Linked DNA regions of Homo sapiens. Each later gene encodes a partner of the first gene's protein in a complex. Each region holds a gene or a part of one and is shown on either strand. Other genes may lie near its edges. The genes, in order: IRF3 and CREBBP. A codon is read from its position in the direction of its gene.

Evidence for each region.
Region 2: the proteins of IRF3 (region 1) and CREBBP are in contact, whole or in part, in a crystal structure (PDB 5JEM), measured with the Homo sapiens proteins. Residues at the interface, in NP_001562.1 of Homo sapiens: Pro198, Gly199, Glu200, Glu201, Trp202, Glu203, Ser221, Leu322, Ile326, Leu329, Ile330, Thr333, Thr370, Cys371, Leu372, Ala374, Leu375, Glu377, Met378, Ala379, Val381, Gly382, Gly383, Ala384; in NP_004371.2 of Homo sapiens: Leu2070 (codon at 2,082), Thr2073 (codon at 2,091), Leu2074 (codon at 2,094), Lys2075 (codon at 2,097), Ser2076 (codon at 2,100), Ser2079 (codon at 2,109), Gln2081 (codon at 2,115), Gln2082 (codon at 2,118), Gln2084 (codon at 2,124), Gln2085 (codon at 2,127), Val2086 (codon at 2,130), Asn2088 (codon at 2,136), Ile2089 (codon at 2,139), Leu2090 (codon at 2,142), Asn2093 (codon at 2,151), Gln2095 (codon at 2,157), Leu2096 (codon at 2,160), Ala2099 (codon at 2,169), Phe2100 (codon at 2,172), Gln2103 (codon at 2,181).

The regions. Positions count from the first base shown.
Region 1 is NC_000019.10:49,662,654-49,670,839, reverse strand, and holds the start of IRF3 (interferon regulatory factor 3), read left to right. Parts: upstream 1-5,016; 5' UTR 5,017-5,209; exon of another isoform or gene 5,210-5,698; intron 5,699-5,993; 5' UTR 5,994-6,001; coding exon 6,002-6,166; exon of another isoform or gene 6,167-6,337; coding exon of another isoform or gene 6,338-6,397; exon of another isoform or gene 6,398-7,165; coding exon of another isoform or gene 7,166-7,171; intron 7,172-7,325; coding exon 7,326-7,497; intron 7,498-7,581; coding exon 7,582-7,652; intron 7,653-8,186. Other genes in the region: BCL2L12 (bcl-2-like protein 12), read right to left, coding at 352-624, 1,725-1,816, 1,903-1,989, 3,679-3,821, 4,041-4,147.
Region 2 is NC_000016.10:3,724,497-3,730,920, reverse strand, and holds the end of CREBBP (CREB-binding protein), read left to right. Parts: intron 1-1,046; coding exon 1,047-3,203; 3' UTR 3,204-5,867; downstream 5,868-6,424. UniProt on the Homo sapiens protein: Acetylates histones, giving a specific tag for transcriptional activation. Mediates acetylation of histone H3 at 'Lys-18' and 'Lys-27' (H3K18ac and H3K27ac, respectively).

The DNA.
Region 1 (8,186 bases):
TACTATGTTGTCCAGGCTGGTCTTGAACTCCTGGCCTCAAATAATTCTCCTGCCTTGGCCTCCAAAAGTGCTGGGATTACAGGCATGAGCTACCCCGTCCGGCCTCTCCCTGAGTAACCTCAGTCACTGGTTTCACGCTCACAGTATTAGCGTACCCAGTCGTTGACGCCAGGCATAGTGTCTGCACTCATCGCTGCAGTCCTGGCATACAGCAAGGGCTCAACAGAACGAACGCAGTGGAGCTGGGAGAATACCTGAGGTCTGAGAGGAACCTAAGAAGTCCCCGCCCCTCCTCTATCACATGACAGTTAGGTAAAGTGAGGCCCGGAGAGAGAGGCTTCAGCGGCTCACCCAGCCCCCGTGGGCCTGGATCCAGGGCGTGAAGCTGTGCACGTGCTCCACGCTGAGTCCGGCCAGGGTGCCCCCCAGCCCGGCCACGCGCCGGCTCAGCTCCATGGCTAGGGCCAGGCGGGCCAGGGGCTCCGGGGAAGGAGGCGGGGGCCCGGGGCATGCTCGGCTTGGGCGAGAGCTGTCATCCCGGCTACAGAACAGCTCCACCAGGCGGGCGAAAGAGTCGGAGGACAGGCGGACCAGCTTGCTGCGCAGGGCGGGGTCCGAGGCCAGCTGTAGGGTGGAAGAGGCAGGGTCCGCGTCAGCAGCGCCCCCGGGGCCAGCCAATAGAGGGCCGGGAGGCGTGGCTTCCCGGTTCAGGATCGTTCTAGATGCTAAGGTTCTAGGCCACCCCTCATCCATATTAGCCAATCAAGCCAGACTCCAGGGTCTCTGCCAAACTACCCCCGGGATAGTGGCCTGGAACGTGAGTCCCTAAGCCATGCCAGGCCCTTGCCTCAACAGCCAATCAGGGCCAATCTCTACTGTAACTGAGTTAATCTAGCCATGCCCCTGGTGACCTTTCCCAGGGGCCAACCTAGTGTCTACAACAATCTTGCCCTCTACCATTCAATTAATATTAAAGGACGATGTACCTTGTCCAAGCTCCGAAGCCAATCAGATTCCAGGACACAGCCACAAGCCACACCTCCTCTGGTAGTACATTTTCCCCTACATTCTAAGCCAGGTCCCTTCTATGCTCAGTAAGATTTTAGCCACTCCCCCCACCCCCACATTCATTCACTTACTTCCCCAGCTTGGCCAGTCTCTTGTGGATAATGTTTCTGATGGCCACACCCTCTGCATTTAGGCCATGCCCCTCTAAACAATCAATTAAAACAACTAATTTACGGTACAGTACTACCCTAACCATACCCCTGTCATTCAACTATTCTTTTTTTTTTTTTTTTTTAAAGACAGAGTCTCACTCTGTCACCCAGGCTGGAGTGCAGTGGCGCAATCTTGGCTCACTGCAACCTCCACCTCCTGGGCTCAAGCGATTCTCCTGCCTCAGCCTTCTGAGTAGCTGGGATTACAGAAGCGCACCACCACACCTGTCCGATTTTTGTATTTTTAGTAGAGATGGGGTTTCACCATGTTGGCCAGGCTGGTCTCGAACTCCTGACCTCAAGTCATCCACCCAACTCGGCCTCCCAAAGTGCTGGGATTACAGGCGTGAGCCACCACACCCGGCCTCAACCCTTCATTGAAACCTTGTCCCAGCCTCTTTCCACCTGACCATCCAAAGAAAATACAGATCCAGCTTCTGATCCCAGTGCCCCACCATTCCGCAACTCCTGTCCTTGCCAAGGAGTGGGACAGATGCCCATCACCTTCTGGTTAATGACTTCTGCCTCCTCCTCCAGCAGGGCCACCAGCCTCCGCAGTATGGCTTCCTTCTCTGTCGATGGGGGACCCTGTAATTCTGGAGGCAGAAGAGAATTTGGCTGGGGGCAGAACCCTGACTATCCTCCCACCGCCATCCTTCTCTGGGGCTCCTCTGTGCCTCACCTGGGCTGGGCGGAGATTTCAGCTGCTCTTGGACCAGCTGTTCCAGCCGCTGGGCCACCAAAGCATAGAAGTCTGGAGTAGCTGGGCCTGGGGTGAAAAGAGTTAATGACAGGTTTCCAGGACATTGGAAACTTACGGATTCTCTCCTTCCCCCAACTACCTTGGCAGGTGGCAATGATTCCCATTTTATTTATTATTTATTTATGTATTGATTTTGGGAAACGGAGTCTCGCAATTCTCCTGCCTCAGCCTCATGAGTAGCTGGGACTACAGGCGCACGCCGCCATACCTGGCTAATTTTTTGTATTTTAGTAGAAATGGGGTTTCACCGTGTTGCCCAGGCTGACCTCAGGCAATCCACCCACCTCAGCCTCCCAAAGTGCTAGGATTACAGGCGTGAGCAACCAAGCCTGGCCATGATTCCCATTTTATAATGGGGTAAACTGAGGCCCAGTGAGAAAACTTGGTTAAAAATGCCAAAACCCTTGTACTTTTCACTTTATGAGATCCTCAGACTGGACTTAGAATGTCAGAGCTGGGGCCAGGCGCAGTGGCTCACGCCTGTAATCCCATCACTTTGGGAGGCTGAGGCAGGCAGATCACCTGAGGTTGGGAGTTCGAGAGCAGCCTGACCAACATGGAGAAACCCCATCTCTACTAAAAATACAAAAAAAATTAGCCGGGCATGGTGGCGCATGCCTATAATCCCAGCTACTTGGGAGGCTGAGGCAGGAGAATTACTTGAACCCGGGAGGTAGAGGTTGTGGTGAGCCGAGATCGGGCCATTGCACTCCAGCCTGGGCAACAAGGGCGAAACTCCGTCTCAAAAAAAAAAAAAAAAAAAAGAATGTCAGAGCTGACAGGGTGCGGTGGCTCACGTCTGCAATCTCAACATTTTGGGAGGCCGACGTGGGAGGGTCACTTGAGGCCAGGAGTTTGAGGCCAGCCTGGCCAACGTGGCGAAACCCCGTGTCTACTAAAAGTATAAAAATCAGCTAGTATGCTGGCGTGCACCTGTAATCCCAGTCACTCGGGAGGCTGAGGCACGAGAATCGCTTGAACCCAGGAGGTGGGGATTGCAGTGAGTCGAGATTGCACCCCTGCACTCCAGCCTGGGTGACAGAGCAACAATCTGTCTCCAAAAGACTGTCAGAGCTCAACTAGACCTTGAAGATGATCTCATCCAAGGAAGGCAAACACAAGACATTACTGTTAGTATCCCCTTCCCTCACTCACTACAGACATCACCAATTGATCACAGCACTTCCTCTCCCAAGCTGTGAACCCCTTTTCAAGCTAGCACTCCCAGCAGCCATTACTAGTCTGTCCAGGTTCACACCTATGAGGAAACTTGTGGGTCACCTTGATCAAGTCCAGTGACCTCCTCCCCAATTCCTACTCTGCTATTGGAAAAACAGGGGAGCAGGGAAGAGAAAGCATTTTCCCCAGAGTCACGCAACTAAAACAGCCAGGGAGATGTGATTGAAAACCAGCCCTTCTGCCCCTCTATCAGGGGTATTCCTGGCTACAAAAGTCCTAGGGGCAGGGAAGTAGTTATGGAAGGAAAGAGACAACAACCAGATTGACCAAATGCTCTCTGAAAGCCAACCCACAGAATTGACAGAAATCTAACTGGGGAGGGGAGAGGACAGGACGGTTCTGTCCTGAAGGCTGGTGCTAGAGACTCCACACAGCCACCCCCTAGCTGAGTGATCTTAAACTAGCACCTTATCCCGTGTTCTGCCGGCTTCATAGATGATCATGGAAATCTCTTACCAGGCTCTAAACCATAGCAGGGGCGGATGGGCAGAGAGCAAGGCCGAGGGGACTCAGAGGGGGCTGCTCCTCGCCCCAGGGAGCAGGGAAGACATCTTCGAAGGCGGCTCAGGAAGTCTGTTGGCTCTTCTTGGGCAGGGCTTCTGGAGAGGAGGACTTCAGAGACTGACCCCACCAGAGATCCCCTGCAAGCAGTCTCTTTCCCCAACTCCCTCCCTCCCCCGCTGAGGACCTCTCTCCAAAACCCCAAAGACAGAGAATAGAGCCAGATATAAAGAGAGGAGACAGACTGAGACCAGGAGCAAGAGTTAGGAGGGAGCCTCAAATGCTGGCCCCTGGGGGAGAAGGGCCACTCCTCTTACCTAGGTGGAGTTGGAACAGGAGACCCGGCAGCCTCACCACGCCTAAGGAAGGCAGCTAGGACCCTCAGCGTGTCTTCCCGGAGCCCCAGCTCTTCAGAGCCTGCCATGGAGGCACCTGTGAGAGAGAGGGTTAGGGACTGGACTCCAAGGGTTTAGCAAGAAGTGGAGGCTTGGGGACCAGGACTTGTGAGTCCCAAGGAAGGTGCTGAGGGCCTGGACTCCTGGGTCCTTTGGAGAGTGTGGGTCTGGGGGCCTAGACTCTTGAGTCCTCAGACGAAAAAGCGATCAGGAAAAAGACTCTTCGATCCAAGGAAAGGTGGTGGGGCTGGGTGCCCAGATTCGTGGGTCTAAAGGAGGAGGGAGCTGGGGTCCTGGACTTCTGAGTCTTAGAGAAAAAGGAACTGGAGCCCCAGACCCTTAGGTCTCCCAGGAAGAAGAGGCTTAGCGCCCCAACTCCTGGATTCTATAAGAGGCATATGCCAAACTCCTGAAACCCTTAAAGCATCGGGAACTACCAATCCCAAGAGGTTTCAGGGCAAATCTTCCCCTAGGTCCGCGCTTCTTCGCCGCGCAGCCTGCTGTGAGGTGTAGTTCCAAATCTCCGACCCCTGCTGGAATCTAGAGGACCCTGGACCCTTGGATATCAGAGAAGCGGGACTGGGGTGCCCACCACTGGATCCCGGCCCCCTCCTCTTCCCTCCTCACCCCACCCCTCGTCAACACCCCGCTGACCTGGTCCGGGGCCCCACCGCCGCCTCCTCCACTCAACTTGCGGTCTCCTCCACTGAACTCGTACAAACTTTATTAGTTCAACTTTCCCGCGCCTGCGCACTGGGCCGGGTCGATAACCGGCCCAGCGTAGAAAGGGCGGAACGCTGGGTGCACGCTCAATTTGCATGTGACGCTCCCAGCATGCCTCTGGCCGGAAACCCAAAAAAGGGCATAGGGGCGGGAACAGCCCAGCGGGCCGTCCCATCGGCTTTTGGGTCTGTTACCCAAAGAATGATAAAGTTGGTTTTATTTCAAGAAGTCGATCAAAAAGAAAGCCCCAGCGCTCTAGAGCTCAGCTGACGGGAAAGGGGGTGCGCAGCCTCGAGTTTGAGAGCTACCCGGAGCTCCAAGACAGGGGTGGGTTCCAGCTGCCCGCACGCCCCGACCTTCCATCGTAGGTAACGCGGAAGAGCCCGGGAGAGCGTTGGTGGCGTCCGAGAGCGAGGAGCGGGAAAGAGGATGGGTCTGCACGGAGAGTGGAAAGGCAGGCTGTGTACTCTGGGGAAAGTGGAGCAAGGAAGGAGCTACAGTGGCCGACGCTGGAGGTCGGCTGCAGAAAAACTAGAAAAAGTAGGGAGGAAAGAGGAAAAGAGGAGGCGTCTACACTGAGGGGGTTCTAGAGAGGGAGGGGTGGACTCCGTAGATGGGGGTAGTTCAGTCTCGAAACCTGGGGCGTGCTCTGTCCTGGAGGAGGGAGGCGGGCAGTCGGAGGGGAATTGAATGGAAGTTCTGTGTTGGAAATGTTTTGGGAGATCTTCTGTAGGGGGACTGTGGAAGGGGGTCTACATTGGGGTAAGTGCAGGAGGTAGAGGCTTACACGTGAATCGATTCTGCACTGAAATAACTAGGGAAAGAGGATGCTACCCTGAAAGTGGGGATACTTACTTTCGATGATGTGGGGGAGGGAGGAGGTCTATACTGGCGGAATTGAGGGAGTGGAGGGTCTGCACTGAAGACGCTGGGGAAGGATGTGCCATGGATATGGGAAGGAACCCTAGCTGATTAGAGAGCCTCTCGGGAGGATGGGAGGATGGGAAGAGGAGGTTTCCTGTTTGTACCCCCGAAAATATGGGTGAAGGACCTGTGCCGTGGCCCGTGAGAAGGAGGTCTGGGTGCGGAAACTCCAGGCCAGGTGGGTCCGGGGGAGGCCGGTCGCGCCCAGGAAATGCCCTATACGCGCAGGCCGGACCATGGGAACCCCAAAGCCACGGATCCTGCCCTGGCTGGTGTCGCAGCTGGACCTGGGGCAACTGGAGGGCGTGGCCTGGGTGAACAAGAGCCGCACGCGCTTCCGCATCCCTTGGAAGCACGGCCTACGGCAGGATGCACAGCAGGAGGATTTCGGAATCTTCCAGGTGCGTGCGACGACCTGGGACGCTGGAAACCCGGAGCTGCGCGCTGGGCGGAAAGGACTCCTAGTGGGCCCGGCTGAGAAGGCGGAGGTGGCGCGCGAGGGGCGGGCTCGTGCCAACGCTGGTGGGTGGGGCTAGAACGGGAGGGGCGGGGCTAGCCGGATCCGCTGACTGATGGTGGGGCGCAAGCAGGGTTGGAGCTGCAGGGTTACGGGAATAAAACCGGGAAAGCCGGTTAGTACGCAAAGGAAATGCATCCTGGGGGTTTGGGGCTTTCTAGAGGCCGGGGCTCTTGGTTGTAGGATAGATACTGGGGGATGGTTCTTGAAACATCAGAGGTGAGGCCTGGAGCCCCAAATCTGAGGTTCCTAACTACCGAATTAGTATATGCCAGAGGTGGTAAACAGTGTGAGGGGCGGGGTTATCACAGAGGGTGTCGCGGGGCAGGTGGTGCACGGGATTAGACACCAAGTTGGACTTGGAAGCCTGGCTTAGAAAGAAAAGGTTTTTGGGCCGGGGGCGGTGGTTCACACCTGTAATCCTAGCACTTTGCAAGGCCAAGGCGGGAGGATCGCTTGAGCCCAGGAGTTTGAGGCCAGCTTGGGCAACATAGGCTCCATCTCTTTAAAAACAAAAGCGAAACAAAACAAAAACCAAAGAGGTTTCAAAGGCTTTTGAAGAGGCCGAGCACAGTAGCTCATGCCTGTAATCCCAGCACTTTGGGAGGCCGAGGAGGACGGATCACCTGAGGTCAGGAGTTCAAGACCAGCCTGGCCAACATGGTGAAACCCCATCTCTACTAAAAATACAAAAATTAGCCAGGTGTAGTGGTGCCCACCTGTAATCCCAGCTACTCAGGAGGCTGAGACAGGAGAATCGCTTGAACCGGGGAGGCGGAAGTTGCAGTGAGCTGAGATTGCACCATTGCATTCCAGCCTGGGTGACAGGAGTGAAACTCCATCTCAAAAAGAAAAAAAGCCTTTTGAAAACTAGAGGTGGGGGATGGAGGTAGGTGGGACGGGGGGATTTGGGGATGGACCTTGCAGAGTTAGAACTTGCCAGGGAAAGAGGGTGGTGTTAGGACTCGGGAGACAGGGTTAGGGCCCCAGGAGCAGGATCTAAGTCGTCCTCCCCCACCATCCTGACACCACTGTTGCCCCAGGCCTGGGCCGAGGCCACTGGTGCATATGTTCCCGGGAGGGATAAGCCAGACCTGCCAACCTGGAAGAGGAATTTCCGCTCTGCCCTCAACCGCAAAGAAGGGTTGCGTTTAGCAGAGGACCGGAGCAAGGACCCTCACGACCCACATAAAATCTACGAGTTTGTGAACTCAGGTCTGCCAGCTTGGGGTTCGTGTGGGAGGCTGGGGCCCCAAGGGTTCCTGGCACTCCTACTCCCCTCACCACTTTTCTCAACAGGAGTTGGGGACTTTTCCCAGCCAGACACCTCTCCGGACACCAATGGTGGAGGCAGTACTTCTGATACCCAGGTGAGAATGTGCCCAACTTTCATGCCCCTCAGTCTCCGACCTGTCTCCATGGGCCTTGTCCTCTCCCTCTAGACGATCCCCCCACTCCCCTGCCTCCAGCCTGCCCCTCACCTGAGCCAGTGCTGACCCTGTCTGTCCCTGCCCCGGTCTCCTCAGGAGAAAATTCCAAGTCTTCACCCAGCATTCAAGGCCCGAGCACACCTTCCCGGGATTTCATGGATTTCGATTCGCAGGGGGCTGTCAGCCTCTTGGGAACTGAAAAACTCCCTCACCTTGATCCTGCTGAGGCCCAAGCTGGGGGAGCATCCCCTCTGAAATTCTACCCAGCCTGCTTTGCCCAGGTCTTACCTGCATAGAGCCAGATCCTTGGGTTGGAATGGTAGCACCTGGCGTTCATTAGTGTTTGTTTGGCTGTTGATGCCATGGCTGGCTCTGTCCCCAGGCTGGAAGCCCCTTGAAGGCAGAGCTCAAGCCTGACCTCCCTGCGTTGCTGAGAACAGACCTGGTCCATATGAAGTCTCCAGAAAAGGATAT
Region 2 (6,424 bases), on another chromosome or scaffold:
TTGCTAAATGGCTGGAAACACCCGCTGTCCTGTTGGCAGCTTGGGCCCCTCTGGCCACTTGTTCCTGAAGGACCCCCCGGTCATGCTCCCTCACTCCCCTCTAGGAATTTTGACCCCCCTGTGAAATGACGTGGGTGTCCCTTGCATGGGCCGAGTCAGGCTGTGCAGGGCAGGCAGGTGACAGATCCCACCATCCCCCTCCCAGGACAGTCACCATCACCTGCCAACCCGGAGCCTCCTCACTTGCTGTGGTGTCTGTAGCGGGGCAGAGCGGGTCCTCAGCAGAGCGAGGGCCTTTCTTCCCTCCCCACCTTCACACACTTCTTCCGCTTTCCACCTTTCTCCAGTCTCCTTTGTCCTCTTTCTAGTTTCTGAATGCGGCAGTTTTCATATCTTTTTGTGAACACAGTCATGGTACCTGGTCCTAGGGCTCCATCAGGTTGCCAGGTGCGAGCAGTTTTCAGTAACTTGGGCTTGCGCGTTGGGGAAGTCCCACTGGTGCACTGCGGATAGCTCAGGCCTTCCCAGAGGCACTTCACGGCAGCTGTCGGCGCTTTGGGAGGGACCGGCCTCCCTCAGCCTTTCACTGTCTGGCTTCATAGTTTGAGTACAGGAGTTGGACAGGCTGTGGCAAGGGCTGATGTGACTCCCAGGTCAGAGGAAGTCGGAAGGAAGGGGGCTGGTGTCTACTGTCCGTGAGCTTACAGGCCAGGGGTTCTTGGGGCATGGGTCAGGTTATCTTTGAGCCTTCAGGGCTGTTGCCAGGAGTGAAGGTCCTTGGGAGCAACACATAGGCAGTCCATGCCCCCGTCCTGTCCATGATCCCATGTTGTCCATGATCCCATCCCGTCCATGATCCCATCTTGTCCGTGCTCCCGCCCTGTCCGGGTCTCCCACCTGTCCGTGCTCGCATCCTGTCTGGGTCTCCTATCCTGCCTGGGTCTCCTGGCACAGACCCAGACTTAGCGGTGGAGGGAAGCAGCCAGGATGCCTGGTGGTACTGGGTCCCATGCTGACACCGGCCTGTCCCCTTTCCTTGCTTGCAGGACTACGACCTCTGCATCAACTGCTATAACACGAAGAGCCATGCCCATAAGATGGTGAAGTGGGGGCTGGGCCTGGATGACGAGGGCAGCAGCCAGGGCGAGCCACAGTCAAAGAGCCCCCAGGAGTCACGCCGGCTGAGCATCCAGCGCTGCATCCAGTCGCTGGTGCACGCGTGCCAGTGCCGCAACGCCAACTGCTCGCTGCCATCCTGCCAGAAGATGAAGCGGGTGGTGCAGCACACCAAGGGCTGCAAACGCAAGACCAACGGGGGCTGCCCGGTGTGCAAGCAGCTCATCGCCCTCTGCTGCTACCACGCCAAGCACTGCCAAGAAAACAAATGCCCCGTGCCCTTCTGCCTCAACATCAAACACAAGCTCCGCCAGCAGCAGATCCAGCACCGCCTGCAGCAGGCCCAGCTCATGCGCCGGCGGATGGCCACCATGAACACCCGCAACGTGCCTCAGCAGAGTCTGCCTTCTCCTACCTCAGCACCGCCCGGGACCCCCACACAGCAGCCCAGCACACCCCAGACGCCGCAGCCCCCTGCCCAGCCCCAACCCTCACCCGTGAGCATGTCACCAGCTGGCTTCCCCAGCGTGGCCCGGACTCAGCCCCCCACCACGGTGTCCACAGGGAAGCCTACCAGCCAGGTGCCGGCCCCCCCACCCCCGGCCCAGCCCCCTCCTGCAGCGGTGGAAGCGGCTCGGCAGATCGAGCGTGAGGCCCAGCAGCAGCAGCACCTGTACCGGGTGAACATCAACAACAGCATGCCCCCAGGACGCACGGGCATGGGGACCCCGGGGAGCCAGATGGCCCCCGTGAGCCTGAATGTGCCCCGACCCAACCAGGTGAGCGGGCCCGTCATGCCCAGCATGCCTCCCGGGCAGTGGCAGCAGGCGCCCCTTCCCCAGCAGCAGCCCATGCCAGGCTTGCCCAGGCCTGTGATATCCATGCAGGCCCAGGCGGCCGTGGCTGGGCCCCGGATGCCCAGCGTGCAGCCACCCAGGAGCATCTCACCCAGCGCTCTGCAAGACCTGCTGCGGACCCTGAAGTCGCCCAGCTCCCCTCAGCAGCAACAGCAGGTGCTGAACATTCTCAAATCAAACCCGCAGCTAATGGCAGCTTTCATCAAACAGCGCACAGCCAAGTACGTGGCCAATCAGCCCGGCATGCAGCCCCAGCCTGGCCTCCAGTCCCAGCCCGGCATGCAACCCCAGCCTGGCATGCACCAGCAGCCCAGCCTGCAGAACCTGAATGCCATGCAGGCTGGCGTGCCGCGGCCCGGTGTGCCTCCACAGCAGCAGGCGATGGGAGGCCTGAACCCCCAGGGCCAGGCCTTGAACATCATGAACCCAGGACACAACCCCAACATGGCGAGTATGAATCCACAGTACCGAGAAATGTTACGGAGGCAGCTGCTGCAGCAGCAGCAGCAACAGCAGCAGCAACAACAGCAGCAACAGCAGCAGCAGCAAGGGAGTGCCGGCATGGCTGGGGGCATGGCGGGGCACGGCCAGTTCCAGCAGCCTCAAGGACCCGGAGGCTACCCACCGGCCATGCAGCAGCAGCAGCGCATGCAGCAGCATCTCCCCCTCCAGGGCAGCTCCATGGGCCAGATGGCGGCTCAGATGGGACAGCTTGGCCAGATGGGGCAGCCGGGGCTGGGGGCAGACAGCACCCCCAACATCCAGCAAGCCCTGCAGCAGCGGATTCTGCAGCAACAGCAGATGAAGCAGCAGATTGGGTCCCCAGGCCAGCCGAACCCCATGAGCCCCCAGCAACACATGCTCTCAGGACAGCCACAGGCCTCGCATCTCCCTGGCCAGCAGATCGCCACGTCCCTTAGTAACCAGGTGCGGTCTCCAGCCCCTGTCCAGTCTCCACGGCCCCAGTCCCAGCCTCCACATTCCAGCCCGTCACCACGGATACAGCCCCAGCCTTCGCCACACCACGTCTCACCCCAGACTGGTTCCCCCCACCCCGGACTCGCAGTCACCATGGCCAGCTCCATAGATCAGGGACACTTGGGGAACCCCGAACAGAGTGCAATGCTCCCCCAGCTGAACACCCCCAGCAGGAGTGCGCTGTCCAGCGAACTGTCCCTGGTCGGGGACACCACGGGGGACACGCTAGAGAAGTTTGTGGAGGGCTTGTAGCATTGTGAGAGCATCACCTTTTCCCTTTCATGTTCTTGGACCTTTTGTACTGAAAATCCAGGCATCTAGGTTCTTTTTATTCCTAGATGGAACTGCGACTTCCGAGCCATGGAAGGGTGGATTGATGTTTAAAGAAACAATACAAAGAATATATTTTTTTGTTAAAAACCAGTTGATTTAAATATCTGGTCTCTCTCTTTGGTTTTTTTTTGGCGGGGGGGTGGGGGGGGTTCTTTTTTTTCCGTTTTGTTTTTGTTTGGGGGGAGGGGGGTTTTGTTTGGATTCTTTTTGTCGTCATTGCTGGTGACTCATGCCTTTTTTTAACGGGAAAAACAAGTTCATTATATTCATATTTTTTATTTGTATTTTCAAGACTTTAAACATTTATGTTTAAAAGTAAGAAGAAAAATAATATTCAGAACTGATTCCTGAAATAATGCAAGCTTATAATGTATCCCGATAACTTTGTGATGTTTCGGGAAGATTTTTTTCTATAGTGAACTCTGTGGGCGTCTCCCAGTATTACCCTGGATGATAGGAATTGACTCCGGCGTGCACACACGTACACACCCACACACATCTATCTATACATAATGGCTGAAGCCAAACTTGTCTTGCAGATGTAGAAATTGTTGCTTTGTTTCTCTGATAAAACTGGTTTTAGACAAAAAATAGGGATGATCACTCTTAGACCATGCTAATGTTACTAGAGAAGAAGCCTTCTTTTCTTTCTTCTATGTGAAACTTGAAATGAGGAAAAGCAATTCTAGTGTAAATCATGCAAGCGCTCTAATTCCTATAAATACGAAACTCGAGAAGATTCAATCACTGTATAGAATGGTAAAATACCAACTCATTTCTTATATCATATTGTTAAATAAACTGTGTGCAACAGACAAAAAGGGTGGTCCTTCTTGAATTCATGTACATGGTATTAACACTTAGTGTTCGGGGTTTTTTGTTATGAAAATGCTGTTTTCAACATTGTATTTGGACTATGCATGTGTTTTTTCCCCATTGTATATAAAGTACCGCTTAAAATTGATATAAATTACTGAGGTTTTTAACATGTATTCTGTTCTTTAAGATCCCTGTAAGAATGTTTAAGGTTTTTATTTATTTATATATATTTTTTGAGTCTGTTCTTTGTAAGACATGGTTCTGGTTGTTCGCTCATAGCGGAGAGGCTGGGGCTGCGGTTGTGGTTGTGGCGGCGTGGGTGGTGGCTGGGAACTGTGGCCCAGGCTTAGCGGCCGCCCGGAGGCTTTTCTTCCCGGAGACTGAGGTGGGCGACTGAGGTGGGCGGCTCAGCGTTGGCCCCACACATTCGAGGCTCACAGGTGATTGTCGCTCACACAGTTAGGGTCGTCAGTTGGTCTGAAACTGCATTTGGCCCACTCCTCCATCCTCCCTGTCCGTCGTAGCTGCCACCCCCAGAGGCGGCGCTTCTTCCCGTGTTCAGGCGGCTCCCCCCCCCCGTACACGACTCCCAGAATCTGAGGCAGAGAGTGCTCCAGGCTCGCGAGGTGCTTTCTGACTTCCCCCCAAATCCTGCCGCTGCCGCGCAGCATGTCCCGTGTGGCGTTTGAGGAAATGCTGAGGGACAGACACCTTGGAGCACCAGCTCCGGTCCCTGTTACAGTGAGAAAGGTCCCCCACTTCGGGGGATACTTGCACTTAGCCACATGGTCCTGCCTCCCTTGGAGTCCAGTTCCAGGCTCCCTTACTGAGTGGGTGAGACAAGTTCACAAAAACCGTAAAACTGAGAGGAGGACCATGGGCAGGGGAGCTGAAGTTCATCCCCTAAGTCTACCACCCCCAGCACCCAGAGAACCCACTTTATCCCTAGTCCCCCAACAAAGGCTGGTCTAGGTGGGGGTGATGGTAATTTTAGAAATCACGCCCCAAATAGCTTCCGTTTGGGCCCTTACATTCACAGATAGGTTTTAAATAGCTGAATACTTGGTTTGGGAATCTGAATTCGAGGAACCTTTCTAAGAAGTTGGAAAGGTCCGATCTAGTTTTAGCACAGAGCTTTGAACCTTGAGTTATAAAATGCAGAATAATTCAAGTAAAAATAAGACCACCATCTGGCACCCCTGACCAGCCCCCATTCACCCCATCCCAGGAGGGGAAGCACAGGCCGGGCCTCCGGTGGAGATTGCTGCCACTGCTCGGCCTGCTGGGTTCTTAACCTCCAGTGTCCTCTTCATCTTTTCCACCCGTAGGGAAACCTTGAGCCATGTGTTCAAACAAGAAGTGGGGCTAGAGCCCGAGAGCAGCAGCTCTAAGCCCACACTCAGAAAGTGGCGCCCTCCTGGTTGTGCAGCCTTTTAATGTGGGCAGTGGAGGGGCCTCTGTTTCAGGTTATCCTGGAATTCAAAACGTTATGTACCAACCTCATCCTCTTTGGAGTCTGCATCCTGTGCAACCGTCTTGGGCAATCCAGATGTCGAAGGATGTGACCGAGAGCATGGTCTGTGGATGCTAACCCTAAGTTTGTCGTAAGGAAATTTCTGTAAGAAACCTGGAAAGCCCCAACGCTGTGTCTCATGCTGTATACTTAAGAGGAGAAGAAAAAGTCCTATATTTGTGATCAAAAAGAGGAAACTTGAAATGTGATGGTGTTTATAATAAAAGATGGTAAAACTACTTGGATTCAAAGATGGTTCAGATTGGCTAATGACTTACAGTTAGCTCAACGGCTCGTCATTATAGGATTGCAGATGCGGGCCCGGTGCGGTGGCTCACGCCTGTAATCCCAGCACTTTGGGAGGCCAAGGCGGGTGGATCATGAAGTCGGGAGTTCGAGACCAGCCTGGCCAAGAAGGTGAAACCCCATCTCTATTAAAATACAAAAAAATTAGCCGGGTGTGGTGGCAGGCGCCTAGAATCCCAGCTACTCAGGAGGCTGAGGCAGAGAATCGCTTGAACCCAGGAGGCGGAGGTTGCAGTGAGCCGGGATCGTGCCACTGCACTACAGCCTGGGCAACAGTGAGATTTTGTCTCAAAAAAACGATTGTAGGTGGTGCTGGCCGGGCTTGGTGGCTCATGCCTGTAATCCCAGCACTTTGGGAGTCTGAGGCGGGCAGATCACATGGTCAGGAGTTTGAGACGAGCCTGGCCAATATGGTGAAACCCCATCTCTACTACAAAAAATACAAAAAATTGGCCGAGGTGTAGTGGCTCACGCCTGTAATCCCAACACTTTGGGAGGCCAA